Regions from separate parts of the Homo sapiens genome. Here regions 2, 3 and 4 are each linked to region 1. Evidence: fine-mapped expression QTL. A gene starts in region 1. Each other region holds a variant in brackets. All regions are shown on one strand. Distances are from middle to middle. Region 1 holds the start of CGNL1 (cingulin like 1). Region 2 overlaps CGNL1 (cingulin like 1). Region 3 has its middle 23 kb from the start of CGNL1. Region 4 overlaps CGNL1 (cingulin like 1).

The links.
Region 2: its variant is fine-mapped to the expression of CGNL1 in pancreas (GTEx, PIP 0.93).
Region 3: its variant is fine-mapped to the expression of CGNL1 in skeletal muscle (FUSION, PIP 0.95).
Region 4: its variant is fine-mapped to the expression of CGNL1 in lung (TOPMed, PIP above 0.99).

What each region holds. Positions count from the first base shown.
Region 1 is chr15:57,372,443-57,380,442 of GRCh38, forward strand. CGNL1 (cingulin like 1) reads left to right here and starts at 4,063. Exons shown (of 19, transcript NM_032866.5): 1 at 4,063-4,125.
Region 2 is chr15:57,474,598-57,482,597 of GRCh38, forward strand. The region is part of intron 8 of CGNL1 (cingulin like 1); the gene reads left to right. Among named protein-coding and RNA genes, the nearest start is that of CGNL1, 100 kb to the left of the region's middle. RefSeq lists an enhancer at 566-1,065. The variant A/G (reference allele first, on the strand shown) is at 3,847.
Region 3 is chr15:57,349,443-57,357,442 of GRCh38, forward strand. No RefSeq gene overlaps it. Among named protein-coding and RNA genes, the nearest start is that of CGNL1, 23 kb to the right of the region's middle. RefSeq lists an enhancer at 6,049-6,770. The variant T/G (reference allele first, on the strand shown) is at 4,246.
Region 4 is chr15:57,447,468-57,455,467 of GRCh38, forward strand. It overlaps CGNL1 (cingulin like 1), which reads left to right. Exons shown (of 19, transcript NM_032866.5): 5 at 4,033-4,134; 6 at 4,674-4,822; 7 at 6,216-6,351. Among named protein-coding and RNA genes, the nearest start is that of CGNL1, 75 kb to the left of the region's middle. The variant A/G (reference allele first, on the strand shown) is at 4,917.

The sequences.
Region 1 (8,000 bases):
TGCCCTTCCCAATCCCATCTTGCTTCACAAGCGGAATAGCTTTTCCACTTCAATCAAATAAACCGTGTATTATTTTTTGTTTTGTTCACTTCCTCCTGTTTCCCTGTCTCGGGTGTATGACCACACCTTCCAGAAATGCCCTCCGCACTCTTTCTGTTATCCATGTGCATTACATCTTCTTCTTTTTCTTTTTTCTTTTCTTTTTTTTTTTTTTTTTGAGATGAAGTCTCACTCTGTCACTCAGGCTGGAGTGCGATCACGTGATCTTGGCTCACTGCAACCTCCGCCTCCTGGGTTCAAGTGATTCTCCTGTCTCTGCCTCCCGAGTAGCTGGGATTACAGGCGTGCACCACCACGCCCGGCTAATTTTTTTGTATTTTTAGTACAGATAGGGTTTTACCATGTTGGCCAGGGTAATCTCAAACTCCTGACCTCAAGTGATCCACCCATCTTGGCCTTCCAAAGTGCTGGGATTACATGTGTGATCCACCACGCCTGGCCTTGCATTACGTCTTCCAAGTGCACGCCATAAGACCTATTCCATGCTGCAGCCTCCCTTCTGTCACTCTTCCTATATTCTGTGTCACTACTCAAATGTCATTTATACTGTAGCACTTATGTGAATATTTTTGTATCATGTATTTTATGTACAGAAAATTTGGAGGAGAAAAGAGGTGATTTTTCTCTACTCATCCTCCTGGAAACTTCTCTTTGGCAAGTTGCTGCCACTGACCCCGCTCTTCCTCCCCTTAATCGTTCTACTGGCTCAAAAACCATAATTAAGGGAGCCAGACTTACATTAAATAAAAAAAAAGACAAAAATGTTTTTCAGAAGCATTCCCTGGAAATGTTTGCTTTAAGTTGAGGTTGGTGGGGCTTGAGCATTCATCTTGACAATAAGAGCAACGAAAGCAGTATCTCTGGTAGCTGATCTCTCTCACCTCTGTCTTTACCTCCAATGACTCCTCTTATTTTTGTCATCAGCAAAATATCTGTATGGGAGGGGAAATTGCTGATGAAATGCTTTTTTGACAGTTAACAAATATTTCCTGAGTGCACACTCTCTACAGATCCTTGGAAGGGCCCATGTGAGAAGTGGATTCGTGACATTCGGCACTGCCCTCTCCTTCAGGAGTCCCTCACCCTTGGGCTTCCGTCAAAGACTCCTGGGTTCTTCCCAACAGCTCTCAGTTACCCTCCTCTTTCTCCCTTGGGTGATGCCCTCTGCTTCCTCCACCCTCAGTGAAGGCACTGCACTCTCCTTTCCTGGCTCCTGGTCCTCACTCTCCCCTCACCCTCCACATGGATGCTGCCCAGAGACACTCCTCCACTTCCCAGCTGCCTGCTGGGGCATTTCCACTGAAAAGTTCCACCATTACTTCATGCTCCATGGAACCTTCAGGAGCTCTCCTGAAAAGCAGCCTCTTTCCATATTGTTCCTATTTCTGATGCTCCAAGGCACCCAGCCTGGAAGCCTCAGCTTTGCCTTTGCCAGTTCCACTCCCTCATTGCACACATCTGGTCACCAAGACATCTGGTCTTCCAAACAAGAGCCCTTCCCTTCCCTTTTCCCTTCCCTTCCCTTCCCTTTTCCCTTCCCTTCCCCTTTTCCTTCCCTGTGCTTCCCTTCCCCTTCTCCTTCCCTTCCCCTTCTCCTGCCTTCCCTCCCTCCCTCCTTTCTCTTTTTCTTCCCTTCCCTTTTTCCTTCCCTTCCTTTTCCCTCCCTTCCCCGTTTCCTTCCCTTCCCTTCCCTTTTTCCTTCCCTTCCCCTTTTTCTTCCCTTCCCCTTTTCCTTACCTTCTGCTTTTCCTTCCCTTCCCCTTCTCTCTCTCCTTCCTTCCTTCATTAGTTCCTTCCTTCCTTCCTTCCCTCCCTCCCTTCCTTCCTTCTCTCCCTCCCTCCCTCCCTCTCTCCTTTCTCTCTTTCTTTTCTTTTCTTTCTTTTTTTGAGACAATTTCATTCTGTTGCCCAGGCTGGAGTCCACTGGGGCAGTCACAGCTCACTGCAACCTCAACCTCCCAGGATCAGTTGATCCTCCCACCTCAGCCTCCTGAGTAGCTGGAACTACAGGCACATGCTACCATGCCTGGCTAATTTGTGTGTGTGTGTGTGTGTGTGTGTGTGTGTGTGTGTGTGTGTGTGTGTGTGTATGCGCTTTTTTTCTTTTTCTTTTTCTTTTTTTTTTGGTAGAGACAGTTTTCGCCATGTTGCCCAGGCTGGTCTTGAATTCCTGTGCTCAGGTGATCCACTGCCTTGGCCTCCCAAAGTGTTGGGATTACAGGCATAAGCCACTGCACCCAGTTGGAAAATTCTTTCCTGTCCCTCCCTGCTGCAACTCCCCATCTACCCCATGACTCTGCTGGTTCCTAGGCCATGGGTCTCCCCCATCTGGTTCCCAGGGCCATTTAGGTGCCCTCTATTGCATGCAGGTTCCATTCTAGTCATTTTGAGGTGTCCAAGTACTGTTTGGTTGCCTTGAGCCCCCTCACTTTGGCATTTGATGCCTTTTCCACCCTCTGACCCCATCCACCTTTCTAGTATGCCTCATCCCATTTTCTAGCATGTGTGTCCTGCCCCAGGCAGCCTCTGCTCAGGAAAGCTGGTCCACCCTCTGGGCACTGTTCACACACCCCATCACCTTGGCTGTCTTCCCCAACCTAGACCTGCTAACTCTGGAATAGTGCAATACCGCTTCCTCCAAAAAGACTCCCTTGACCATGCTGCCCACTTGGGATAAGTAGCATCTTTTTTTTTTTTTCTTTCTTTCCTGGCAATGAATCACTATTATTAGGTCGGAGCAAAAGTAACTGTGGCTTTTCCCATTGAAAGTAATAGCAAAACTGCAATTACTTTTGCACCAACCTATTACTTTTTCAAGTCCTTTTATATTGTTTTGAATTGTTAAGTTTTCAAGGGTCTATTTCATTCAATATGTCAGCAAACATGTATTAAGTACAGGTTGGGCAGGGCGCAGTGGCTCACATCTGTAATCCCAGCACTTTGGGAGGCCGAGGCGGGTAGATTACTTAAGGTCAGGAGTTCGAGACCAGCCTGACCAACGTGGTGAAACCCCGTCTCTACTAAAAACACAAAAATTAGCCGCGCGTAGTGGTGGCCACCTGTAGTCCCAGCTACTCGGGAGGCTGAGGCACGAGAATCGCTTGAACCCGGGAGGCAGAGGCAATGAGCCGAGATCGCGCTACTGCACTCCAGCCTGGGCAAAACAGCAAGACTCCATCTCCAAAAAAAAAAAAAAAAAAAAAAAGTACAGGTTGTTGTTTTCTCAGGGAATCCTCATAGCTGGTGAAGTATCCAGCTTTTCATTTTACGGATGAGTGAACTGGGGTTTAGAACTGATAACATTTTGCCCAAGTTCTCACAGCTAGCGAGAGGCGTGCCGCAGTTTATCGTGGGGTGGGTCTAAACAAGGACCTAAAAACTGTATTCGAATCCCAGCCCTACTACCGCCAGCTGTGTGACCTTACGAGGCGCCTCACTTTACTGTTTCTCCAACAGAGACAGACATTTCTTGTTACCGCGCAAGTGGGATAACCTCCCCACCAGTGTCTAGACACAGTAGGTGCTCAATAAATAGGTGTGGGTTTGCGGTGGCAGAAGAGCGCTATCCCTTAAGTTTCTGACAGTGAGGGGGAAAAAGGCTAAGCAGGGAAAGGAAGGGAAAGGGGTAAACTGAGCTCGGCGCAGTCGAGAGCGCGAAATAGGGAGGGCTTCCTGCAGGCCAGGAATTTGGAGAGGCCGAGGCTGGGAGAAGAAAAATGCCCGGTGACGGCGGAGGGGAGGTGGAAGGACGAACGGCTCCGGGAAGGGGTGAGGTCTAAGCGCAGCCCCGGGCCCAGCGGAGCCGAGGGCGGGTGGTGCGGGGGTTCCTGGGTAGGTTCGTCCCGACGGGCCGCGGGCGGATTGAAGGGAGGGTTGGGCCCGCCGGCAGCCCCGGCGGGTCCAGGCCCCCGGCCAGCCCCTGCCCCTCCTCCCAGGAGGGCGGGCGGCGACTGCGGGGCGGGGCGCGGGCTCGCTCGGCCTCCCGGCGGCGCCGCGGCCCTTGCACTCCGGCCGGGCTCTGCTGGCTGCGGCGGGAGCTGGACGCGGGAGGAGGCGGCGGCGGCGGTGAGTGAGCTCCGGGCTGGAGCGGGGCGGGGTGTGCGCCGGCAGCCGGGTTTCGGGGTGCTAGGGGCCGCCCAGGGCGGCGGGACCCCCAGGGGTTCGGGCTCAGCCAGGTGCACTGTGCTCAGTCCGCGCGTCCACTCTCGGTGACCCGCGCCGCGCGTGTCCTGGGGCTCGAAGATGCGACCCGGACTCCCGCGCCGCGCCCCGCCGAGGGCAGGCGCAGAACAGATGCGGGCGATCCCTGGGGAACCCGCTTCGGGGCGGGGTGGGAGGGAGGAGGCCCTGCAGAACCTCCCTTTAGTGAAGAGGGACTTTCTGCCTTCGCACCCCTGCCTGGACCCTCCGGCTCTAGTGACAGCTGGGAGAGACTCACACGAAGCAGTTTCTGACCTATCCTGTCGTACACAAGTCCTCGGCGTGCTCGGCCGGACCATCCCCTGGAAAGAAAGGGGCGTGTGACCTTTCTCTCCCCGATCCTCCAGACCACTGCGCCGCCCAGGGAGGTCATCCCCGAGAGAGCCCCCGCCTCACTCGGAGCACACATTCTAGCTCTCCCCGGGACTTTTCCAAGTTGCATCACTGTTTGGCCTCTAGACAGGTACTTGGCTGTCATGTTGGAGTTAGTTACACAGGATTTTTGAAACTTTGTATATTTGCTTTGTGTGTTCTTCACCCTAAGGCCGCTGCCCTCCCGACTCTGCTTATGCCGCTCAAAACGTTGCTCAAAGCTCGCTGGGAATGCTTTTGCGGGCATTGGTTCTCAAACTTGGCCCCACATCTGGAGAGTTTTAAAAAATACTGGTGCCTGTGTCCCACTCCCAGAGATCTGGATTCGGCTTGCCTGGGTTGCAGCCTGGACAATGGAATTTTTAAGACGCCGCAGGTGATTCTAATGTGCAGGCAAGTTTGAAAACCTCTGCTTTGAGAGTTGCTCCCACCAGCCACTCTTCGGACGGCTCAAGATCAGTCCTGATCTAGAACTCATCTCAGGTCCTCATAGCTCTTCCCTAATCCACCTCTCCACCTGAAGAACCTGTTGATTGGTGCTTTCCAACTTTAGACAGTAGATGGTGCCTTTACTGAAGATCCCTTTGTTTCTACCTCTCTGTTTACAGTCAATACTGCCAGGGCACTTTCTGCCAAGGAGGTGGGAGTGTAGGCATTAGAACCGAGCAGTCCTTGTCAGGGTCAAGGTTATAATACAGGGTTGTCCTATTCAGGGAAAACCAAGTGATAATTTGACTTGTCATATTCGGGAATGATTTCAGATTAAAAGGAGAAAAAATACTTTAGGGTTTGGTCAGCTTTTGGAGACCCTCCGGAGACTCCCCCACGTAGATAATGGAGTTGCATAAATGTGGAGAATTTTCCTTCAAAAAGCCAAAGCTAACAACATCCTTAAGGTTTTGTGGTTGATATTTGTGTTAACATAAGTCCATTTTTGTAGATTAAACTTATTCTGGAAGTATGATGAAGCCCTGCAGACAGAACACAGTGTATAACATGGCACATCTGAGATGACACCTGAGACACCTGTCACATGGTCTTAAAAATGATAGAGAAGTAGGACTAAGGAAAATGTAACCATGCTTATATTGGCTAAATTAGGTCATATATTTTATCAAGAAAATGTGTTTTCACTGCCCTTTTTAGTAATGTGATAGTCTCCGGGGATCTTGGTTAATTTACTTTTGTACCCCAAATATGATGTTTGCATTAAAATTTCCACCCTGATGTTGCTACCTGACCACAAATCAGTGGTTTTAAGTTTTTCTTAGGGGGTGGCCCTCTATGTGTTTTTTTTTTTTTTTTTTTTTTTTTTTTTTTTTTTGAGACAGAGTTTTGCTCTTGTCGCCCAGGCTGGAGTGCAATGGTGCAATCTCAGCTTACGGCAGCCTCGGCCTCCCTGGTTCAAATGATTCTCCTGCCTCAGCCTCCCAAGTAGCTGGGATTACAGGCACCCGCTACCATGCTCGGCTACTTTTTTGTATTTTTAGTAGAGACAGGGTTTCGCCATGTTGTCCAGGCTGTTCTCAAACTCCTGACCTCAGGTGATCTGCCCACCTCGGCCTCTCAAAGTGCTGGGATTACAGGCATGAGCCACCGTGCCCCGCCTGTATTTTTATTAACAGTGGGATGACATCCTTCCAAGAATGCCTTGCTGAAGTGAAAGAACATTTACATTCATTTCTAGCTGCTAATGTAAGTCCAAAGAACATTCATTTTGAAAAATACAAAAATGACATAATTTTGCCCACTTGGTTTTCTCGCTTTTCCCCAACTTCCACGACCATGCTCTGCTGCTACTACTGTATTCACTTGCTGGAGGTGTGCACCCTGTGGGAGCCGTCTTCATTGTCTTGGCTTTGGCTTGAAATGGAGGTTACATGCAGCGCATTGTCTTACAGGGTGTCCCCTGACCCGAATCATCACCCTTTGGGGAGCAAGACTATATGGAAAGTGTTTTCCTACTGTTTTTTTTGTGTGTGTGTGTGTGAGTGAGTGAGACCATGCCAACAAAATGAAGCCATATTATTAAATGGTTTGTTAACTTCCAAATCTTGTCTCAATTGGGAAAAGAAAAATGCTTATTCGAGGATGCTGTTGAATTCATGGTGTCTGAAAAGTCACCCCTGAACAGCAATAGTTACACTGTGAATATAATAATACACTCTACCCCCCCAAAAAGAAAAGTTTATGTAAATGTGGGCCTAAGCACATTTATTGCAATTTCTCACTTTGGAGTAGCAGCTCTAATATCCTAAAGTGATTAGAAGAAAGTAAGTGAAGAAAAATATGAAGAAAGGGTTAGTGAGATACTTTTTCATTTAGGGAAAGGGGATACAGCAACTAGAAAAGGCCTTGGGTTTGTGTTAAGAATTTATTGCCCTGGTGGCTTCCTTTTTTTCTTTGTTTAATTTGCTTGTGCTGATGGGTGAGGGAGAGTTAAAGAAATTTAATGGCCTCCTAACTCTCTTTCCCCGTGAAACCCATTTATCTAAGAGATGCCATTGGCCTTTTAAAAATATCCAACTGATTTTATGCTTTTCCTTTCTTTTCATCTTCTGATCTCGGCACTAAAGGGCGGTGGCATGGCTGAGAGGTTGGCATCAGAGCAGGAAAACAAAGTTCAAGGGGAAACCAAAAATTGGGTAATTTTCTCTGAATGACCAAGTGCTTACTTTTTTCAGGCATGTGACATTGCTGTTATCAAGAAACCAGTTATGACATGAAAATCCTGAAAATGGAAAAGGAAAAAAGAAAAAAAAAGGGAATGGGGTGGGGGATGGAAATAGCACCAGGGTTGACTGACCTTTACCGAGGAGGGAAGGCTTAGTGTTTTCAGCCTGGTGTCCCCCGTGTCCCGATTGCAGCCCCCTGTACTTCTCTCCTCATGCACCCTCCTGCATCCCTCAAGCCAATATCCTTGGGGGAGATAGTGCTTCATCTTAAATTCACACTAAGGTGTCTTTTTGTTTTTGTTATTTGAGACTCTGCTCTGTCACCCAGGCTGGAGTGCAGTGATGTGATCTCAGCTCACTGCAACCTCCGCCTCCCGGGTTAAAGCAATCCTCCCTGCCTCAGCCTCCTGAGTAGCTGGAATTACAGGCATGCGCCACCATACCCCGCTTATTTTTGTATTTTTAGTAGAGATGGGGTTTCACCATGTTGGCCAGGCTGGTCTCGAACTCCTGACCTCAGGTGATCCACCTGCCTCGGCCTCCCAAAGTGCTCCGATTACAGGCATGAGCCACTGTGCCCAGCTGTTAGTAGCCCCTGTTACTAGCAAAAGCTATGTATTACCCAGAGTTGTTGGTAAACAGGATAAGGTTCCTGCCTTAAGGGGCCTGAGTCAGGTGGGGATGTAAACCCTG
Region 2 (8,000 bases), 100 kb after region 1:
TAAACCCAGCTTTGTCATTGACTTCATAGAATTCTCCTAGTCTTTCTCTGTTTTTATTTCCTCTCTTGTAAAGGGATACTATTTGTGTTATAAAAAACATACATAATATATTGCTATACATGCATATGTGCTTGTGCACATATGGATTATTTCAAGAGGGAGATAACTAGTCAATAGTGGTTACTTCTGGGGATATGTAGGGGGATGGAGTAAGAGGAAAACTTTCAAAAAACAGTGTGTAAACCTTTCATATCTTTTGAATTTATTCCATGTACAGTGAAATAAGAGTATTGATCTGCACCTCTCCTAAGGCAGGTCAAGAAGAAGTCCTAAGTTTAGTGAAGTATTTTTAATTTTTTGTCACTGGGGGCCCCTGCCTCTGCCTTGACCTTGACCTTCACCTTCTGTCTGCTACCCAGGTCTGTGGCTTCCACATCCACAGCAGCTCAGTTCCATCCTCTGACCTCCTTTCTCACAGTTGCTGCCCTGGTTCAGGCCTCAGCAGCCATCTCCCTATTTCCCCAACTGTGTTGCCCCCTTCTGACCACACCACCTGCCGCAGGTTGGCCACCCTCACAAGTCCCTGGTGGCTTCCCTTCAGTTACAGAGTCCTGCCTGGTCTCCAAGGCCTGCACTCCACCACCTGGCTCCCACCTGCCTTTGCAACCCTGGCCCTCACTGTTGTCCCTGGTGAGCTTGGTGCCAGCCACACTAAAGGATTCCCTGTCACCTCCACAGAAGAGTGTGCCCTGTTACTCCGTATTAGCCACCTCTGGGACTTTGCTTTGCAATCCTGACCTGCAAGAAAGGACAGTCCCCACAACAGAGACATATCTGACCCAAAATGTCAATCATGTCACTCTGAGAAACTGGGATCTATGTATATACAAGTGTGGTGTGTGTGTGTGTGTGTGTGTGTGTGTGTGTGTGTGTGTGTGTTTTCTTTTCTTCTCTTTTTACATAAATGCCTGCTGTGCAACCCCAAGCCTAGTTAATGAGCAATAGATGGAGTGACTGAATACTTTTGACACACCACATCTCTGATCCCAAAGAATCTTCTTCTTGCAGTGGGGAAAATAATCCTCCCAGGGCTGTACGTATTCCAGCCTCAGACTGTCTTTTCTGACCTGCTGTCCTGTGCTCTCTCACTGGATTCTCTGCGTGTGCCCTAGTGGTCTCCCTGCTTGCTTTCTTCTTTCCCCCGGCTCATATTAGCCTGTCTGTCCCCAACATCCTTCACCAGCCCCCGAGCTATGGTCTCCGCCATTTAAAATCGTGCCATCCTTCATGGCTCAGGTCAGATGACATCTCCTTCTTGGGTCCACCCAGCAGCTGCTGTTCTTTCTCTTTGAAATCCCCAGGGTCTTTTGTCCCTCGGGTGGCATTTATTGTGTTTTGCTTTGCCTGTAGTTTTTGTTTGTTTACTCAACACATCAAGCATCATGCGAAATCTGGGGTGCAGAGATGGACAAGGTGGCCTCTGCTCTCAACTCTTCCCCAGCCTAGTAGAGACAGACAAGAAAGCTGACAGCCAGTTCGGTGTGGGGCATGAGAAGCTGGCATATGGCACGGAAAGCAGAAGTTCGGAAAAGGGTGACTTTGCTCCGTGTAGGCAGGCCAGGGCGGGTTCCTAAGAGGGAGTGAGGCTTGGGTGAGTCTTGGGGGCAGTGGGAATTAGCAAGGTGACTTATGGGTGGGCAAGGACATTCTAGACGCAGGGAACTTCTTGAACCAAAGTATGTCTTGTTCTCCTCTGAGACTTGAACACCTCTTTAGGGGTAACCATTTTCCTTATTCATTTTTATGCCTTTTATAGTTTTACCTTAGACAGCTAATAGTTTTGTTTGCATTCATGTATTTATTCATTCAACAAATATTCTTGAGTGCTTATTTACTTGAGGTACTGGATAGATGTAAATGGATTTAGGCAAATAGTTGGTGACAGAAGAATTCAGTAGAAACCATCAGAGTAGTAGGCGGCCTCTGAAGTGATTAGATGTGGTTTAGTGAGTTTTAGCTACAGAGTAAGTCATGTGTTCACGGTGACCACACGTTAGAATTCTGGAAATGTGGGCCAGAACAAGTCCAAGTTAGATGCAATGGAAAAATCCCTCTGTCCGAGTCATCTCTAGGGAACAGAACTTGTTTGAACCAGCATTATTAGTTTAGTTTCATGAAAGACAAAATAAAGGGCAAGGTGTTTGCTCCACAGGGTGACTGCAGCAGTTTTCACAGTAATGAATAAAGTAATGCTGTTTTGTCAGCAGTGAGTAGGAGTTGGGGACTGGGAGAAGCTTGTTCCATTCCTCAGGAAATTCCAAAGTCATGCACGGGCCTTATCCTTGGGGAACTTACAGATGAAGGAGAGAATATGGCCAAGCACACATATTTCTCCTTTTAACACTTCCCTTCTTTTTCTTTCTTTTTGTTTTATTTGTTAAATTTCTGCACATGTTTCTCAAGTGTGTGGTCTAGTGGGAAGGAATACTGGCAGTCTCTGGGTTTAGGGAAACATTGAGTCCCCTTACAGTTAGAAATAAAAGGCTGGACGTGCTTCAAAGACTTTTTGAAATAAGGCTGGGGACAAAGAAGTCAAGCAAATAAATGATAGAGTCCAGAGAAGGTGGCATTAGAGATAGATCTGAAAGCATTCAGGGAGACGTGGTGCAGGAGGATGGGAAAATCTTGTTTTTTCCATCCCTGAATTGTCCAAGAGCCCAAAGACATCTACTCTGCAAAGTGTTTGCTGGATGACAGTGCAACGAAGACTTAGATGCTAGCAAACTTCGTTGGAAAACACTGGGTTCTTCATGTATTTGGAGCAAGAACCAAGGCATTAGTAAACTTTGGAAAATAGGCAGTGAGGTTGTCCGATAGAGTCCATCTGGGGAAGTATTTTGAGCCAGTTGGGTTTATAACTATGACCCTAAACTTGAGTCCAGCATATGCCAAGTCCAAAGGAAAGGTATGTTCTTTGGACCCCTCATGCTCTCTGATTTACAGGGACCTCTTTCTGCCTGGTCAAGGCATTTCATGACTCTAAGCCTATGACTTTTTGTGAGAAGAAGCCTTCCATGGCTCCTTTGCTGCTTGGTTTTGGGGTTTTGGAGGCACCAGGATGCCAGGCTCCTACCCTGTGTGCAGTGCTTCCTTCTCCCCGTCCCATTGTGAACTGTTTCCCTTGCAGGTTCAACTCATTGCCACTTCCTGTAGCTGTCTTAGTGACCCTTCAGGCCAGAAGCAGATGCCTGTGCTGTGTACCATGCCCCTCCTGCTGCTGAACTGGAGAGAAAACGTGGCTGGCAGGTGGTGAACTCTCTGGCTGATTCAGGCCCAGTGGAGAAGGAGGGTTAATAATTTACTTTGCCCCTGTGTAGCCACTGGTGTTGACCTTGTCAAAACACTAGTAGAAATTAATTAGAGTCTGGCCTGTCATTTAACTAACAGGATAGTAAGGCCCCAAAATAACTTCTTGTTTTGAGGTTAATCCTGTCTCTGAGTTTACGGCTGACATTCCTGTACATCCGGCCCTGTTTGCATCCAGCAGCCAGGACCGTGGGCTCATGGTGTTCATGGGGCTCACAAAGAGGGCACACAAGGTCAGGGGCCTGTCTCTCCATGGGAGCCGCTCATTGTGGTAGGAGGACAAAGGCCACAGTGATCAAGATGCTCTGTAGGAGAGGCGGCAGAACAACATGTGGGCCTGGTAGATATTGCAGGTGAAGAGCCTCCCCATCCCCCAAGCTTCTTTCATTTTAAATTCACAGCTTTTGTTTCTTGAGAAGTTCCGAATCTTTTGCATCTGGTGCTGCGAGAAGGTTCACCTGGTTAAACATCCTCAAGTCA[A/G]CAGCACAGCTCCTTCTGGAAGGCACTTTAACTGGATGGGATCCTCTCACTGTAGACATTGCTACCTCCCTTTCCTGAAATAAAGCCTGCTCCAGAGCAGTGATTGTCTTGTGGTGTGTTGTGGAAAGCTGTTAATAGCTTAAAAGGTCTCATTAGCTGCTAGATAGGCCTAGACTGTGAAAGGATACATGGTGACCCAAGGGTAGATTCTTTTTTTGAGAGTCTCGCACTGTCACCCAGGCTGTAGTGCAGTGGCATAATCATGGCTCGCTGCTGCCTCGACCTCCCAGGCTCAAGTCATCCTTCCAGCTCAGCCTACAGAGTAGCTGGGACTACAAGTGAGTGTCACTACCTCTGGCTACTTTTTGTATTTTTTTTAGAGATGGGGTTTTGCCGTGTTGCTCATGTTGGTATCGAACTCCTGGGCTCAAGTGGTTCTCCCACCTCTGCCTCCCAAAGTGCTGGGATAGCAGGTGTGAGCTACAGCTCCTGGCCCAGATTCTTACCTTATTAGGGAGTATCTAAATTAATCTGTTTATTGATCTCTTAAGTAGAATCTGATTAATTGTCCATCAATAGCTAGCTGCAAAGCACTGCAGAAGCCCACTTGCCACTCTCCTTCCCCCAGCTCTCCAGGAAGGTGCAAGGAGTTGTTTGAGATGGTTCTGACATCCAGCTTTTGGGTCCCTGGTTTATTGCCTTTTCCAGTACATTGGCTGGCACCTTTATCCAGCCAACAAATACACGCTCTGTAAACATGCATGTACTTTTGGAGAAGGCAGTTGGACCAAGGTGAGGGTGTGGAGGATGGGAGTGAAAAACAGAGTAAGCCAGAAAAAGGGGTCATGGGAAAGGAAGGGCAGGAGCTAGAGGGAAGAGGCCTGGGGACTGACTAGTGCCCAGCAATAGAAACAATCAGCATTAGAAATGGGCAAAGGGGCTGGGCATGGTGGCTCATGCCTATAATCCTAGCACTTTGGGAGGCCAAGGCGGGCAGATCTCCTGAGGTCAGGGGCTCAAGACCAGCCTGGCCAACACTGTGAAACCCTGTCTCTACTAAAAATACAAAAATTAGCTGGGCATGGTGGTGCATGCTTGTAATCCTAGCTAGTTGGGAGGCTGAGGCAGGAGAATCGCTTAAACGCAGTAGGTGGAGGTTGCAGTGAGCCGAGATTGTGCCACTGCACTTCAGCCTGGGTGATGGAATGAGACTCCTTCTCAAGAAACAAAAAACAAAACAAAATGAAACAGGCAGAGCAGTTTGAAGAAACTTCTCAAGAAACAAAAAACAAAACAAAACAGGCAGAGCAGTTTGAAGTATGATGGGAATGAGGTACAGGGGAGGCAGGAAGGAGAAAAGTGCAAAGGGATAGTGAGAAGATGGGAGGTGGTGTGGAGAGGAAGCAGGGAAGCTGGTAGCACCAAGAAGTGAAAGAGGAGTTTGAGCTAAATATCTAGAGGATAAAGGGGGAAAAGATGAGTCTGAAAGGTATGAGAGGGTGACAGCAAAGGACAGAGGAGAAGCCGTGAGCTACATATTATGCCAGGTGAGATTTCTGCTCCAGGAATTTTGGCTCACGGTTATCCCAAAGAGCTGTGGCAGCAAGTGTTGGTTTTATTGCAGTATTAGCAGTATGTGGTTACTAAATAAGTGACTTTTGAAATAAAGTGTGAACTGTGAGACTCTAGAAGAGGATAAATGAAACTTTTATCACCTGAGATGGGTAATTTTTATACCTCTTATTTCTAGGGTCTCTCTATCCACAGCATTGAGCATGGGTATGAAAATATGCATTGAGGCCAGGAGCTCACGCCTGTAATCTTAGCACTTTGGGAGGTCGAGGTGGGTGGATCACCTGAGGTCAGGAGTTTGAGACCCGCCTGGCCAACATAGTAAAACCCTGTCTCTACTTAAAATACAAAGAAATTTGTTGGGTGTGGTGGTGTACATTTGTAATCCCAGCTACTTGGGATGGTGAGGCAGGAGAATTGCTTGAACTCAGGAGGCGGAGGTTGCAGTGAGCTGAGATCCTGCCATTGCACTCCAGCCTGGACAACAGAGTGAGACTCTGTCTCAAAAAAAGAAAAAAAGAAAGAAAATATGCATTGAATGTAATACTTTAAAAAGTTACAACCATCATTTGTCTGTGGGGGAAAATACCATAGTCCAGTTAGTTGTACCTGTCTCTAGTGGTCTTTGGGCAGGAGTTTGAAGAGATCATTGGAAAGACATCAGAAGAATTTAAATGACCCATATCCCGTCTTTCAGAATGAAACTAATATTCATTAAAAAAAATTGTATGCTCTGGCTGAGAATTTATACAGCCTTCTAAAGAGGAGACAGGTATGCTTTTGGTTTCCAGTGATCAGTCTGTGAACTTGGGGCATTACTCAGTGGATCTGGAACCTTCTTACTCTCACCAGTTGGTTTAGGCCATCCCCCTTCCTCTTGAAACCAACTTTGTTTGATATGTCATTGTAGATTTTCTATTATTTCCCCCAAATCATTCCTTAATGAACAGTACACCTTAAATGCCTTCTCTTTGTATCCAGAAATTATCAGCTCAACCAATAAATAGTATGTTTGTTAGTCAAGCCAGTGATCCAGGAAAGACCTGGGGTTTTTTTTTTTTTTTTTTTTTTAAAGATGGGCAAAGTTTAAAAAAGAATTTTTAAAAAATCAAACGTTTTGAGATAGTTATAAATTTATATGCAATTGTAAAAAAAAATACAGCTAGATGCCATATACCCTTTATCCTGTTTCCCCCAAATGTAATGTATTGCAAACTATAGTACAATAGCATGACCAGGATACTGACATTGATACAGCTGAGATATAGAACATTTACATCACTCCCCGCATTCTTCATGTTGTCCTTTTATAGCCATGCCATCTCGCTTTCCCTCCCATCCCTCCTTGACCCAACTAGTGTACTTCTCTCTGGTTTTTAAATTTTATCATTTCCAGGATGGTATATAGATGGAATCATACAGAATGTAACCTTTTGGAATTGGCTTTTTTCTCTCAGCATTGTTCTCTGGAGATTCCTCCAAGCTGCTGCATGTATCAACAGGTTCTTTCCTTTTTATTGCTCAGTGGTATTCTATAGTATAGATGCACCACAGTTTGTTCAACCATTCACTCATTGAAGGACTTATGGGATGTTTCTTGTTTTGTACTATTATAATAAAGCTTCTATGAACACAGCTTTTTGTGTGAATATGTTTTAATTTTTTTCTGGGATAAATAGGAGTGTGAATATGTTTTAATTTTTTTCTTGGATAAATATCTAGGAGTGTGAATGTGATTTAATTTTTTTCTGAGATAAATATCTAGGAGTGCAATTGCTAGGATGAATGGTAATTACATGTTTAGCTTTTAAAGAACCTGCAAAACTACTCTCCAGAATGGCTGCACCATTTTGCATTCCCAACAGCAATGTATGAGTGACCCAGTTTCTCTGAATTGTTCCCAGCATTTGGCATTGTCAATATGTTGTATTTTAGCCATTCTGATAGGTATATGTGATATTATATTGTGGTTTTACGCAGTTTTCTAATGGCCAATCATGTTGAATGTCATTTCATGTGCTCTTTTGCCACGTATATCCTCTTTGGTGAAATATCTATTCATGTCTTTTGCCCATTTCCTAATTGGATTGTTTGGGGTTTGTTTTTTTTTTAAACTGTTGAGTTTTCAAAATTTTTTATGTATTCTAGATATGAGCACTTTGTCAAATATGTGGTTTGTAAAGACATTCTTCCAATCTCTAGTAAAACAAAACAAAACAAAACAAAACAAAAAACCTTTTTAACAAGGTCTTTGAAAGGTACAAGTCTTTAGTTTTGATGAAGTCCAATTTAGTTTTTCCTTCTATGGATTGTGCTTTTGGTGTCAAGTCTAAGAATTATTTTCCTACCTTAGATCCCAGAGATTTTCTTCTGTGTTTTTGTTTTCTAAAGGTTTCTTAGTTTTGCATTTTACATTTAAGCTCACAGTCCATTTTGAGTTAAATTTTGTGTAAGGTGGAAGTTTAGTTTGAGGTTTATTTATTTTGCCTGTGAATATCCAGTTGCTCCAGCGCCATTTGTTGAGAGGGTTATTCTTCCTGCAATAATTGCTTTTGAACCTCTGTAAAAGTGGGTTGGGCATT
Region 3 (8,000 bases), 23 kb before region 1:
ATGGTCTCGATCTCCTGACCTTGTGATCTGCCCGCCTCGGCCTCCCAAAGTGCTGGGATTACAAGGGTGAGCCACTGCGCCTGGCCGAAAAAGCCTTCTTGACTGAGAGCATGCTGCGGGTTAGGGAAGGGAGAGGTTACCTCTGGATCAGAGGTTGGAGAAGAATATAATTAAAGGAGTTTAAACTGAACTGGAGTGACACATAAATCATGCGAAATATATGTGAATGTGTTTCTTAAGTAAAATTAAAAAGTCCTCCAGGGGGATGTGCTTCTCCCATGCTCAAAGCTGACAAATCTTGGAGATGCCTGGTGCCCCAACCAAAGGTCATTTCCCAGCCTTTCTCTGAGAACAGAGAACACATTTCTCACGGAAGCAACATTATAAGTGGTGGTTGGGTTCCCAAGATCCCCATCAAAAGTTTATTTGCCCAGTTTAAAGGCTGCGCATTTGCACCTGAAGTAGGTAGGGCCCTTGCAAAGGCTAGCAGTTGGATAACATTAAGTTACATGTCAAGCCAGTCAAGATATGTGCCCTGCAATCCTCAGGAGTTGCTTGTGGAATTCAGAGGAGGAAGGGAGCATCTTCCAGTTAGGTGGCTAGGGAAGCAGTGGGATTTGAGCTGGGCTTGGAGTGGTGGATACATTTCAGTGACAGTAACAACCCCTCTGTCCTTCTTACTCAACTTTGCTAAGAAAAATTCTGAACTTTACAAATTATCCTTGAATCAGGCCCAGTGAGTTATGCGGAAATGTTAGAGCAAGCCCAAACCAGCTGGGACAGACGTAAATGTGTTCTGGATGTGCTGACTTGATCATAAGGTCCTCAGGTCTTCAGGATCCTGTAAGATGACCATCACCACACCACACTTCAGATTCCAGGGCCTTGCCTCCCTAGCCTGACATCTCACCTCCACCTCTGTCAAAATTTCAGAATCAGGTTGGGTCTTATCTTTGTTCTTATTTTTGATGTCCCATATAAACCCTTCTTCAACTGATCTTTTCCACCAGGCCCATAACTTCTTTCTTTGTTTTTTTTTTTTTTTTTTTAGACGGAGTCTCGCTCTATCACCAGGATGGAGTGCAGTGGCACGATCTTGGCTCACTGCAACCTCCACCTTCCGGGTTCAAGCAATTCTCCTGCCTCAGCCTCCTGAGTAGCTGGGACTACAGGAACCAGCCACCACACCCAGCCAATTTTTTGTATTTTAGTAGATACAGGGTTTCACCATGTTGGCCAGGATGGTCTCAATATCTTGACCTCATGATCCACCCACCTTGGCCTCCCAAAGTGCTGGGATTACAGGCGTGAGCCACCGTGCCCAGCCTCTTTCTAAGCCAGCATCCAGAACACAGATACAAGACTCATTAGGTAGGTTCAAAAAACAGGTCTCCAATGGCTTCCTTATTTCAGGAAGCACTGAATTAATTATTTCCACTCAGGAAAAGACTATGTTGGAGTCCATTGCTGCTTCTCGATCCCAAGTGAACTCCAGGAAGAAGCAAATGAAAAGCAATCATAGGCCGGGTGCGGTGGCTCGTACCTGTAATCACAGCACTTTGGGAGGCCAAGGCAGATGGATCACCTGATGTCAGGAGTTCAAGACCAGCCTGGCCAACATGGAGAAATCCCATCTCTACTAAAAATACAAAAATTAGCCGGGTATGGTGGCAAGTGCCTGTAATTCCAGCTACTTGGGAGACTGAGGCGAGAGAATCACTTGAACCCGGGAGGCGGATGTTATAGTGAGCTGAGATCGTGCCACTGCACTCCAGCCTGGGAGACAAGAGTGAAACTCTGTCTCAATAAAAAAAAAAGAAAGAAAAGAAAGAAAATAAAAGCATCGATAGTGTATATAGATCAAAGGAGGAAGGGACATTTTCCTTAGAATAAAACTTTAATAACGAAAACAATAAACTCCCTCCTTTCCACTCGTAGAATAGTCAAGCACTCATTTCTCATTTGCTTCTCAGCCATCAGCTGTCCTAATCTGTTATCTATTACGCTGTGTAACGAAACTCGTCCCAATCTAGTAGCTGAAAGCAACAACCATTTATTATGGCACATGTCTACATGGTGGCTGGGTGGTTTTGGTGATTTGGGCCCAGGCTGGCTGAATCCAGGTGGGCTTGTTCAGTGGTCCCTGGCAGTTGGGTTGGGGGCTGGCCTGTCTAGCATGGCCTCAGGTAGGAAGAGTTGGCTCTGCTCCACAGACTGACCCGTGCCTGTTCTCTTCCTCTGGCAGGTTAGTCCAGGCTTGTTCTCTCAGTGGAGACAGGGGTCCTACGAGAAGAGCAGAAGCAGTAAAGGCCTCATGAGGCCTGGACTTAAAGGACACATTGCCAGTTCCGCTATATTCTGTTGGCCAAAGCAGGCCAGCCAAGATACAAGCGGGGGGAGAAAATATGCTCTACCTTTTAATGAGGCATTGCAAACTCACATTGCCAAGGGTGTGGATACAGAAGGTCACTAGTTGTGGCCATGAATGCCATCCATCTATCAGACCTGCCAACGTAGTTTTTCTTTTAGGGGCGGACTTAGTCCGATTTCAGACATTAGTAAAACTGATTCGGATTCCATTTCCAAATTCCTAATTCCAAGAGAACTGGAAAAGCAGAGCGTGCCAACCTCTTATAATCCTTCTTAATGTGACAAATGTTTCTACAGCGTCCACTGAGCCAGGCTCAGTAGGTCCCTGGGACATATATGAAACAACAGTTCTCCTGCCCTCCAGGTGCTCAGCACAGCAGGAGAATCCCGGCTGGGAACAGAGAGCAAAGCGACCACATAGCTCTAGTGGGAATCCTGGGGAAGTGGTATGTGGTCTTGAATAGTGACTTAGAGTTTTCCAGAAAGAGAAGGAAGGGGAGTTCATTCTAGAGGCCTGGAGGATGTAAAGATGGTTGTGTTTTCATGAAACCGAGCTGTGGACACAAAGGGCAAGGCCAAGGTTGCAAGGGGCCTTGCCCGACTCTCTGTGGAGAGAGGATTTTATTGTGAAGGGTCCACGAAGTCACCGCAGGGCTTCAGCTGGATGAGTGTGCTCTGCTTGGCCTGTTGGAAAGATTGCTGGGGCAGCAGGGAGGTGAAGAGGAAGCTAAAGATAGGGTGACCAGTTGGGAGACTATTTCCAGTCCAAATACATCCTCTTGGGTTTGAGTTTCTGTGACCGTCCTCCTGCTGGCTGGAACTGGGAGGTCCTCTGGGGTCTCTAAACGCTCTCAGTTGCTTGCCTAGAGTTATGCAAGCGGGCGTGGGGTCGGGGCAGGACCAGGAAGCTTTGCGCTTTCTGCTCTTGGCTGATTTCATAACAGGTTAGCTTTTAAACTTCTGGCTCATTCCAGACACTATGCCTCTGGCCCTGGGAGAGAACTTGGTCTCCCAGACCGCGCATAACATTTCCACTTTCCGGCAAACACAGTCTGTGCGTGATCAGGTGAGGCTGGCGCACACAAATCCTTGATGTCTAGACCGCCTTTCTCCAGCTGCTGTGTTTACTGCAGAAAGGTTCCATCCTGGGATGATCGCCTGGGGGGAGTTTTCTTCTTGCGACACCTAGTTCAGCTCTGCTGAGCTTTTGGATTCCCAGCCTTTCTCCCACCACAACCCGGTGGTCATGAAGTCTCACAGGAAGTGTGGTAGGCACAATAATGGTCCCCAAGGATGTCTAGGCCCCCATCCCTGCAACCTGTAAGTGTGTTGTTACACGGCCAAGGGGATTGAATTAACAGATGGAATGAAGGTTGCTAATCAGCTGACTTTAATACAGGGAAATGAGCCTGGATTATCCAGGTGGGGCCAATATCATCATCAAGGTCCTTAATAGTGGAAGAGGAGGCAGCAGAGGAGCGCAGAGTGTTGCTTTGTGAGAAGGACCCGCCCAGCGTTGCTGGCCTTTAAGATGGAGGAAGGGGGCCGTGTGGTAGGAGTGTGGGGGCCTCAGGAGGGAAGGAAATTGGCTCTCCCAGGAGCTTCCAGAAAGGAATGCACCCCTGCTGACACTTTGATTTTGGCCCCAGTGAGCCTCGTGTTGGACTCCTGGACTACGGAGCTGTAAGATAATAAATGTGTGCTGTTTTAAGCCAGTAGCTTTGTGGTAATTGGTTACAGCAGGCATGGGAAAGCAGTGCAGGGTGTGTGAGCTGAACCCTTGAAGACGGGGTTCTCCACTACGTCCCCAGTGTGGAGCACAAGCTGGCTCTATGCCCGGTGCTCGGAAGCATTTTCAGAATGAACAGGACTGAC[T/G]GAGATGAAGCCGCAGACATCTGCTCTCTCCAGGCCCCTATCTGGCTGTGTGACCATAGGTGGGTCCCTTCACTTTCAGTGACTATGTTCCCATGTCTCTTAAGGCAGTTGATGACCTCAAGGGTGGGTGACTTTTGAAGTGACTCTCAGATGTGTTACCACTGGAGCCACCGCCAGATCTCCTGACTCTCCTCTCTCTGACTGGTCTCATTCTTAGTCTAATACCATCATTCTCCAATGCTAAGGTCATTAATTAGCACCCCAGGCCCTCACTGACTCTGCTCTCACCCTGTCTCTGGGGCTCCCTGCCTACAGGTTCACTGCGGAGGTCATGGTAGACGTTGCTGCCCAGAACCTCCAACCGTAGGAAACCTCTCCTCCTTATTCTCAGCCATGAAGTGTGGGAGCAAAACTGCTACACAGTTTTGCTCAGGGTCAGACGCTGGGACATCCCCAGGGCCTGTAATGCTGGTCTCACCAGAGCTTTGACTGTGAATGCTGCTTTTCCTCATAGCAGTGTGTGGCCCCTAAGGTCCCCTATTCAATGACCAGGGACAATCATCAAATCAATGCAAAGAGAAAATGAAGCCTTGTGTTTCTATCTAACGGGTGAGCTACACTGGAAGTATAAGAAGTACTTATGGGGAAATCTGCTTTCCTGACTCTTACTTCTGTTTCCAGAGGGTGATATAATGTGTGTAAATGCAGATTCAGCTTCGAGGAAACTTTCGTCTAATAATGAACTGAACCACATTATGGCATGCTATCTCCAAGGTATGATAGTATCTGTTATACTCATGGGGTCCAAATTTTCTTTAGCTTAGAGGTTATTCTACTTTAGAGCAGGAGTTCTCTATTTTGGCCACCCACTAAGAATCACTCGAGGGGAGTATTTAAAAATCCAAGCCAGGCTGCACTCTAGAGCCACAGAATCACTGGGCTGAAACAGTTCCCCAGGTGACGCTGATGTGCAGCGCGGGTTGAGAACCACTCCACTGCCTTAGCTAACACTGGCTACTCTTGCCTTTGCCTTTGCTATTTACAAAAACAATTATTTTTTAGTATCTAAAGGCCAACATCAATAAACCCTTACTTGTTATACTAGAAGATGCTCTGTCCTCATTGACCTGAGTCCCATCTTAGTGGGGCTTATTATAATGACCCAGGCACGTGAGTCTCATGCAAACCAGTGGGGCAGGCTCTTGGGAGCAGTGGCTTCTGCATTATGCCTGGAATGCAGGAATACATGGGGATCAGTCCGACTGACAAATGCAACTCACCCAAAGTGACTATGAATGACTGCAAGGGCATCTGGGTACAGCAGTGGGACTGTAGTTCAGGTCAGGGATCTGGTCTCTGGTGTTGGCCCTGGGCAGGGAGGGAGCTCTAACAGGAACCGAGGCACCCAGTGTGGTACCTGCAGTTTCCCTGACCCCCACTGCAATCCTTCACCCCCGGGCTCCCCTTGGTTTCCCTGCCTCACCCACAGTCATTGGCCTCAGCTGGTAAAGGGCAGCTTGAGCCAGTGCGTCCTCGGAGCGTTAGTCCCAGCCAGTTTTTGCTGACTCCTCTCCCTTCCCAGCTGCCATGGCAAGTGGGTGCCCAGTCCCACAGCAGCCTCTCTTTCCTAAGTAAAATCCCACGCCCCGTGGCTAACTGTTCACAACCTGAAGGAAGAAATGTTCTACTTTCAAAGGAAAAACAGCCCTCCTTCCATGTAGCTCGCCAGCTGCCCACCGCTAGCCAGGTGTCGCTTGCAATCCATGGACACCGTTCCCGTAGCAACCCCAGGTGACTGTCACAGCTGCCCCTGACACAAACTGCTTTAGCAAAGGGGTGTCAAAAAATATTTTAAAAACAAGTTTTAAACACAATTTTTAGGGAGAAATCAAGAGGGTTCTCAACTGAGGTAATTGACCGACTTGGTGGGGGTTCAGTCCATGAATGTAGCTTCACTCTTGTGGCTATTAATGGCAGGGAGGTGGGGGGACAGTTGGTATAAAGGCAATGAGACTACATATCAAGATGGAAGGGGGCATCCTAGGCTTGGCATGGTATTTGGAAACCTTGACTAGCCTTTTATGCCCAATGCTGTTTGGAAATCTTGCTGGGAATCACAGAAGCTATAGATGCTTAATGGTGTCAGCACTGATATGCGCCACCATCAGCTTGAATTACATATTAACCACCCATCTGCATTTAATCCCTATACCTGGCCATCTTCTGATGAGACGAGCTATTTCCTCTCTCTCCTCTCTTGTACTCTCCAGTGGATAAGTGAGTTTCTCTCCATGCCTTCTCTGGAGTGGGCTGTTTCGCCCACTGGAGGGGGATTCTCAAGGTCTCCACCACTCCTTGGAAAAATGGGGTGAGGACTCCAGGGCTGGGAAAGGGAAAGTGTAAGATGATCCTGAACCAGCTTATGGTGCCTGGAAGTAAGGAAATGCTAGAAAAATGGTGAGAACATGTCAGAAGATCACAGGAGCCAGCTTGAAAGGGCTCAAAACAGCCAAACCTAGGGAATCTGAGCAATAAGAGAAATAATAACAGTGGATTGTGACCTGTAGAGTACAATGGATGTATTCTGCTAAGTGAGAGAAGCCAGACCCCAAAGTCTACATACTCAAATCCACTTATATGACATTCTGGAAAAGGCAAAACTATAAGGACAAAAACCAGATCAGTGGTTGCCAAAAATAGGAGGTGTGGGGGGGTTGATTAAGCTGTATGAGGGATTTTGGGGGCTGATGCAGCTGTTCTGTTGCATGACTGTGGTGTAGATACATGACTCTACATTGTCAAAACTCATAGAACTGCAAACTACAGAGAGTGAATTTTACTGAATGTAAATTTTAAAAAATTAAGATGTTTGGGAGCCCCAAATGGAACCCAATTACAAATAAACCCAACCAGGCTGGGCATGGTGGCTCACACAGGTAATCCTAGCACTTTGGGAGGCCGAGGTGGGCAGATTGCCTGAGCCCAGGAGTTTGAGACCAGCCTGGGGAACATAGCAAAATCCCGTCTCTACAAAAAATACAAAATTAGCCAGGCATGGTGGCGCATGCCTGCAGTCCTAGCTACTCAGGGACTGAGGCGAGAGGATCACTTAAGCCTAGGAGATTGAGGCTGCAATGAGCTGAGATCATGCCACTACATTCCATACATTCCAGCCTCAATGACAGAGTGAGTCCCTGTCTCTTAGAAATAAAAAAAAACAAAAGAACCCAACCATAATACAGATGAATAACATAACCACACTGAAGGGGGTAGGGAAGAAAAGAACCAACCTGAGTACCCAGGGAAAATAGGGTTTTGACTTGATACACAAATACTGTATGGTTAATACACTTCTCATGGGCGGGGGGTGGAGGTTAGGAATTCTGCAACTACTTTCTGTGTATACTAAAGCTGAAAAAATAGGTACAGCTGACCCTTCAACAACACAAGCTTAAACTTCAAGGGTGCACTTATCCAAGGATTGTCTTTCACTTCTGCCACCCTCGAGGTAGCAAGACCAACCCCTCTTCTTTCTCCTCCTCAGCCTACTCAGTGTAAAGACGATGAGGATGAAGACCTTTAGGATGACCACCTTCTACTTAATGAACAGTAAATATATTTTCTCTTTTTTATGATTTTCTTAAGAACATTTCATTTTCTCTAACTGTATTTTAAGAATATGTAATAAATACATGCAAATCAACTTATCAGTAAGGCTTCTAGTCAACAGTATGCTATTAGTATTAATAGTTAAG
Region 4 (8,000 bases), 75 kb after region 1:
CCATTGGAAAGCCAGCCATCATTCTTAGTGTTATTCTCTTGAAAGTGATGTGTCTTTTCCCTCTGGGTGCTTTTAATAATTTATCTTTATTGTCAATTGTTAGATTTTGACTATGACGTGCCTAAGAGTGGTTTTTCTTTTATTTATTTTTCTTGGGGTTCAATGAGCTCTCGACTTGATAGGTTCATCAGATTTGAAAAATTCTTGGCTATTATTTATTTGAATATTGCTTCTTTCACATTCGGTCTCTCCCAGCTCTTCTCAGACTCCAATTACATGTATCTTAGAAATTTTGATGGTGTTCCTCATATCTCTTGTGCTCTATTCTCTCTCTTTTCGTGTGTGTGTGTGTGTGTGTGTGTGTGTGTGTGTGTGTGTATGTTGTATGTTTGGGGCATCAGATATTCTGGATATTTTCTATTGACCTTTCAAATTCATTAGTCTTGTTTTCTGGCTACGTCAATCTTACTTTAAGACTTTCTCTTTTAAGATGTCTTTAAAAGAATGTTTTTCTTCATCCTTCATTTAAAGGATGGTTCTTTTAAGAACTTTTCTTTGGCCAGGTGCAGTGGTTCATGCCTGTAATCCTGGGAGTTTGGGAGGCCGAGGTGGGAGGATTGTTTGAGGCCAGGAGTTTGAGACCAGCCTGAGCAACATAGTGAGATCCCATCTCTACAAAAACCATATTTAAAAATTGCCAGGCATGGTGGCTCATGCTTGTAGTCATAACTGCTCAGGAGGCTGAGGTAGGAGGATCACTTGAGCTTAGAAGTTTGAGATTACAGTGAGCTGTGATCCAGTGAGTTCTTAACTTTCAGATATTGTGTACTGCTGTTTTAGAGTGTCTACTTGGTTATATTTTTATAGAATCTATCTCTGGAACTTGATTAAAAAAAAAGGGCCAGGCATGGTGGTTCATGCCTGTAATCCCAGAACTTTGGGAGGCCAAGGTGGGTGGATCACCTGAGATCGGGAGTTCCAGATCATCCTGGTCAACATGGTGAAACCCTGTCTCTACTAAAAATACAAAATTAACCAGGTGTGATGGTGCGCACCTGTAACCCCAGCTATTTGGGAGGCTGAGGCAGGAGAATTGTTTGAACCCAGAAGATAGAGGTTGCAGTGAGCCAAGATCTGGCCAATGCACTCCAGCCTGGATGACAGAGCAAGACTCTGTCTCAAAAGAAAAAAAAAACAAAAACCCTTTGTCCATAATTGTTTCTATTTTAAAAATATTAGTTATAGTTAATTTGTAGTCCTTATCTGTTAACTTTAACATCTGGGTCATCTCTATGTCTGTTGTTTATTTTATTTAGTTACTGGTTAGTTCTTCCTACTTCTTTGCATGTCTAAGGATTTTTTTTTTTAATTGTATGCTAGACCGAGTGGGTGATGAGTTATAGATGTTCTGGAATGTGTTATCTCCCCCTGAAGAATGTTAAGTTTTGTTTTGACAGACAGTTAAATTACTTACAGATTACCTTGATTCTATATGGTTGGTTGTTCTAGGCATTATTAGGGAGTGTCTATTTAAGTTTTTGCCCTTACTCTTAAGACATGACCCATGTTCCTTTCTTGGATTTCAAATGAATGCCAGAATGTCCACCAAGGTTTCTCTATTTTGGTTGAGTTGGAACCCTAGTGTCTCCCTAGCATTGGGCAACCTGTGAAGTTTCTGTTGGGTTCTTTGCCTCCTAATAGGTCTTCTCTGCAGTCCTCTTGAACTCTTGCTCTGCTCATATACAGCTTAGGATATCATCCAAGAATCCAGGGAGTATTTATTGTAGGTTCTTGGAACTTCTTCTGTGGACCTCTCTCCTCTCTCATACCCTGACCTTGAAATCCCTGTTGCTTACTATCTCTAAACTCTAATCTCTATTTCTTTCATCAGTGAGTTGCCACTCTGGACACTTTTCTCACTTAAATTAACAAACCTTATTTTTCAGAATAGTTTTAGGTTCTCAGTGAAATTGAGTGGAAAGTGCAGACAGTTCCCGTTTACTGTCCTGTCCCCACATACGCCCTCCACCACTGTTAGCATCCTATAGCATGGAGCGCACCTCTCACAATCAGGGGACCTACACTGGCACATCATTATCACTCAAAGACGTCCATAGTTTACGTTAGTGTTCACTCTTGGTGTTGCACATTCTACAGGCTTCTGACAAATGAACAATGACATGTATCTATCATTTAGTATCATAAAGAATAGTTTCACTGCCCTAAAAATCCTGTGTGTTCTGCCTGTTTGTTCCTTTCTCTCCCCTAACCTCTGGCAACCCGTAATCTTTTTATGGTTTCCAAGGTTTTATTTTTTCTGGAGTGTTCTGTAGTTGGAATCACACAGTATATCACCTTTTCAGTTTGGCTCATTTCCCTTAGTAGTGTGCATTTTTTCCCATGCGTTTTGATGGATTGGTAGTTCATTTCATTTTAGTATTGAGTATTAATATTCCATTGTCTGATATACCACAATTTATACATTCACCTTTTAAGGGCATCTTGATTGCTTCCAAGTTTTGTTAGTTATGAATAAGGCTGCTTTAAACGTTCACGTACAGGTTTTTGTGTGGACATGAGACTTCAACTAATTTGGGTAAACACCCAGAGGGCAGCTTCTGGGTTGTATGGTAAGAGCATGTTTAGTTTTGTAGGAAACAACCATACCATTTTCTAAATTATCTGTATCATGTTGCATTCCCACAAGCAAAGAATGAGTTTCTGTTACTCCACATCCTTGCCACCATTTGGTGTTGCCAGTGTTTTGAATTTTGGCCATCCTAATTCGTATATATTGGTATCTCGTTGGTTTGTCTGTTTGTTTTTTGAGATGGAGTCTTGCCCTGTCACCCAGTCTGGAGTGCAGTAGCATGATCTTGGCTCACTGCAACCTCCACTTCGTGGGTTCAAGCGATTCTTCTGCCTCAGCCTCCTGAGTAGCTGGGACTACAGACGTGTGCCACTACGCCCGGCTAATTTTTGTATTTTTAGCAGAGATGGGGTTTCACCACGTTGGCCAGGCTGGTCTCAGACTCCTGACCTCAGGTGATCGTTCTGCCTCGGCCTCCCAAAGTACTGGGATTACTGCATGAGCCGCCCCACCCAGCCTCATTGTTGTTTTAATTTGCAATTTCCTAATGACATTGTCTGTGCTTATAAAATTTTATTGTGCTGTGGTTTGGAAATGGAGTCATGGAGAACCCAGGGTGAATGTGGGGCTACCTCCTGTCTTTTCCTTTGTAAGGATCATAACTCTGTGTTGCTTGCTTTTCAGTGCCTGTCAACAATTGTTTTATATATTTTTGTCTAGCTTTCATAGTTTTTGCTGGGAGGGTAAATCTGATATTTGCTACTCTATCATGGCAAAACCAGAATTCTAACAATCATTTACTGAGATTTGATTAAATTTATGAGATACATTGGGTTCTGTAGATACAGAGGTGCATAAAACCTGGTCCCTGCCCCATAAAAGTTCATAATCTCCTGATGTAGTAATTCTCAAACCACTCTTAAGAAACACTAAAGCTAAACTGTATTCTGCCATTAAAATAGAAAAAATGACTGTCTTTACTTACAAAAAGATTTTGTTGCTGATTTTTTGCTAACCATTGATTTCCATGCTCTGGAATATAGAATTTATTATGGAGAGGCTTTTTAAGTTTTATTATCCTAAATTTAATGCATTGCTATTTTATAATATTCTACAGAATACATTACGGACTTCTAACAAATATGCCATGTATGCAAGTTTTAGTCATATTGGACTAGTGTTGATATACCTGATGAAACAATACCTGTGATTGGTAAATGCTGTAGAATAAAGTTCACTGGAGTCCCAAGGCAGGCAGTAACATTAACTCTGCCCACCAAGTCAGGGAAGGTTCCCTGAAGGGGTTGATGTTTGAATTGGGTCTTAAAATGTTTAGTGTTATGCCTCATCTGTTACTGCACTGATTATATTTGGAGGGGGAAGATAATTAAAATAAAGCACCCTGAACATTTAAATTAGTATATCTTTGCAATTAATTATAGGCTTGTAATTCCACATCTGAAGTCAAAGATCTATTGGAACAGAAAAGCAAGTTGACCATAGAAGTGGCTGAACTTCAGAGACAGCTTCAACTGGAAGTCAAGGTATCTGGTTTTTCCTTTATGTTATTTTTTCCATTTCTGTCTTGGTTGATAAAGAATATTTTACATGCATTGGGATAACCAGAGTGAAAGCCAATTTTTTTTCCCCCAAAAGAAACATTCCTCTAATCACTGAATAAATTCCTGTGTATTTGGCTGCTGCTGTCCAAAGAATTTTTTTTTTTAATGTAACCAAAGCCTATAGAGACTGTTTGCTTAGACAGAGTAAAAGAAACCCTGTTGGATTTAGGCAGGCCAATGGGAAACTAAATGTATATAAAACATCTGAACTAAATCATAGAAATAGCAGAATGAGGTTTGGCTGTGTTTGTGTTTTCTTTTACAAGTATTACAGTTCATTAAATATAAATGTTTGATGTTCTTTCTAGTTAAGAACTCCTGTGCCTTAATTATATAGTTTGATTAAGTTGTTTAATAATGTAAGTGCAAAGATATGGAGTCTGCTTGTTGAGAAGTAGGCTTCTGTGGGGTTACGTTAATGTACAGTGGAGGCTCTTTAAAATCACACTGATTCCTGTTAGAATCAACAGAACATTAAAGAAGAGAGAGAGAGGATGAGAGCAAACCTAGAAGAGCTCCGAAGCCAACACAACGAAAAGGTGGAGGAGAACTCCACATTGCAGCAACGACTGGAAGAAAGTGAAGGGGAGCTCCGGAAGAATCTGGAGGAGTAAGTTCTGGGCTGAGAGCCTGTTGCCCTTCCCAGGTTCTCTATGACATGTAGCTAGAAACTTTCTGTCCATTTAATACTACCCAGCCTTCCA[A/G]ATATTTATAAAGGCAGCTGGCTTTTCCTTTTCTTCCTCTTATCTTTGTAAAATTATGAAGCTGGCGACACATGTAGACTGATAAACAAAAAGGTTAGTAATTCTTAACATTCTTTGTGCACCTTGAAGTATACGTTACAAAGTTTCAGTCCTTAAAGTGGACCTCCTAGCAGGTAAGTGGGAAGCAGGGAGCACTGAGCGCTGATACTGAAAGACAGAGTTCAAGGAGCCTGGGCCCAGCTTCTAAAAAGCATGTGTTACGTGGCCCCCGTGAGCTCTCAGCCTGTGCATTTTATCCTCGATGGTGCTGGTGTTTGTGATGGGTGCTTATACCTCCTCTGAGTCTACAGAGAAGGAAAGTTAGGTCCAAGATGCCCCTGCCATTGTGTTGTATTAAAAGCTGTGGCAAAGGAATCGAAAACCAAGGTCTAAGAATAAACAGTGCTATGACGTTCTGTGGACACGACAGAAGCCTTAAGTGGAAAGTCAAGTGGGAATGAAATCTAGGGGGAAGTTCAAGAAAAAGAGGACATTATATAATAAAAGCATTTGATTGTCCTTGCAGTTTTGATGGTGGTGTTTTGCGTTTAAAACAATCATAGATGCTAATTGCAGAAAAGAGTTTAGTAAGAAAAAAATCAGAAAATATAGGGTATAGTAAAAGTTTTACAAAATAAAAAGGTATAGTAGTTGTGAGTTTGGTTCAGGACAGAGTTTTGTAAACTTTTTTTTCATCAGGTGGTGATTATTTTAGGGTTTGTGGGTCATATAGTCTGTTGCACATACTCAGCTCTGCCATTGTGTCGTGAAATGAAATGGCTGCTCATAAATGAATGAGCATGACCATGTTCCAGTAAAACTTTACACTAACAGGCAGTGGGCTGAACTGGCCCACAGACCATAATTTGCCAACTCTCCTGGTCTAGAACACTGGGATAGTAGACAGTGGAAGGATGGGGTGGCTTTAGTGGGAAATTTTTCTGTTTCATTTCTTTATCTTCTGCATCCAAATTCTAGTACCCTACCATCTCCTTTTGGGGAGAAAATGTCTCCGTATAACCATACCCACTTTGTTGGTTTGAGTTCTCATTTATCCTCTTGTAAGCAATTAGACCATAGCCTAAGTTCTTCTCAGCCACCTTTTCAGGTTGGTGATCCCTTGCTCAGTGCAGAACAGAGAATGGGGAGGCTCCTTGGGGCTTTAGAGACTTGTGTAACCCTCTGAAGATCAGAAATCAGACTGGATGGAAATAAGCAGAGCCCAGAAGAGCCTGTCTAATGGGCTTCCTTCCCTGCCAGGCTATTCCAGGTGAAGATGGAACGGGAGCAGCATCAGACTGAGATCAGGGATCTCCAGGACCAGCTCTCAGAAATGCACGATGAACTGGACAGTGCAAAGCGATCGGAGGACAGGGAGAAGGGAGCTCTGATTGAGGTAAGCAGGGCTGTGGGGTCAGGTGATAAGACAGGCCCCACCTGCCTGGAAAGATGGAGTGGCTAGGGTTTGTGGACTGCAAGCCACTTTCTGATGTGCACACCTGCTCCACCTGTGCTCTTATGATCTGTGAGTCAGTGGATGCGCTTGATTCTCTCCTCTCAGCTTGGCATTTGCTAATTATTATGGGTTTTTATTATGTATTCTCTCTTCTCTAGATTATTATCTTGTTGAGGTATTAGATTCACATGTATGAAATTATTAGCAAGAATGTTGGTTTTCAATATGTACATTTTTGGGAGAGGGAATAAGTATAATTGAGGGTCAGAAAAAGACAGGACTTTTATCTCTGCACCCATTTAGGTGTTTGATGTTTGCTGTAACATTATCATCACCTGTATTCTAGCATAGTTTTGGAACCTACTTCTTTATAAGTGTGGTTTGTAGGAATAGCCCAACAAAGAGATGATAAACAATTTAGAACAAAGCCAAAAAAATTAAAAGTCAAAACATAAAGGTACTGTGTTAATATTTAATTTTCTACTTCCTCCCTCTTTGGGCTTAGGTGTTTTCTCTCTCCCTTACTTGGGGCTAGAAGCTTCTGGCTCTGAAGTCCCTGGAACACTCTTTAAGTCTCAGTTGTCTACTGTTCTGTCACTCCTTTCCTCCTCCAGTTTTGAAATAATTCCTCAGGAGAGATTTTAGGTCCTACTTTTTAGAACTTAGCCTTTCTTCACCCGATGACCTGGCAGGAGCTCAGAGATGAGTGACTCTGGTCACCCAGCCCAGGAGTTCTCATGAATCCATTTTTCACATTGGCAGAGGAGGGTGATTGCCTCTTCTCCATATATGACCATCTCTCTTTCCCTATTCAGACCTTTTCTCCTGAGAAGCCCTCAGCATTGTTCCTTACCAACTGGGATTCCTCTTTTTATCAAATGATTCCTTAAAAACCACCACATTCTTGGTATAATACTGCTTCTCATGGTGCTGTTTTCTCTCAGGGCTCAGAGTTACAAAGACAAGAAGATATATGTATTTATCACTGAAATAATATTAAAACAACATAAAACGAAAATTGAAAAAAGGGGGAGGGGGGGACGTACACATACTTTCCTAATACCTGAGCAGCCATTTTTATTTCTATAATCTCTGTTTGCCTCCCTATCTATTGATAGCTTTCATCTACCCATGTATATATAATATAAGGACAATCATAATGTCCCTACAGTTTTGATACCTGCTTTTAAAAGTTAAGATATCAAAAATGTTCTTTCTTATTATACTTTATGCTCTTTGTATTTAATTTTTAAGAAGATAAACCACAATATATTTAACCATTCTCCTACATTTTTTTTCCCTTTTTTGTAATTTTGAAACAAAGATTGTGGGGAACATTTTTTACATTTATACTTTTACTACTTTAAAAATTGTTTCTAAGAATAAGTTTCCAGAAATGATGTCAATGAACAATTTATGGCTTTCAATAAAAGTGTAGCTTCATGAACAAATTTAAATAGAAGATAAAACATTGTCATATTCTTGATTCCTTGTGTGAACATTTTATTGGTTCTAAAAGGGAAAGATGTTATCTTAGCTCTTGGGAAGTCTCTGAAGTTGCTGATTTTCCGCAGTAACTGACAGCTGTC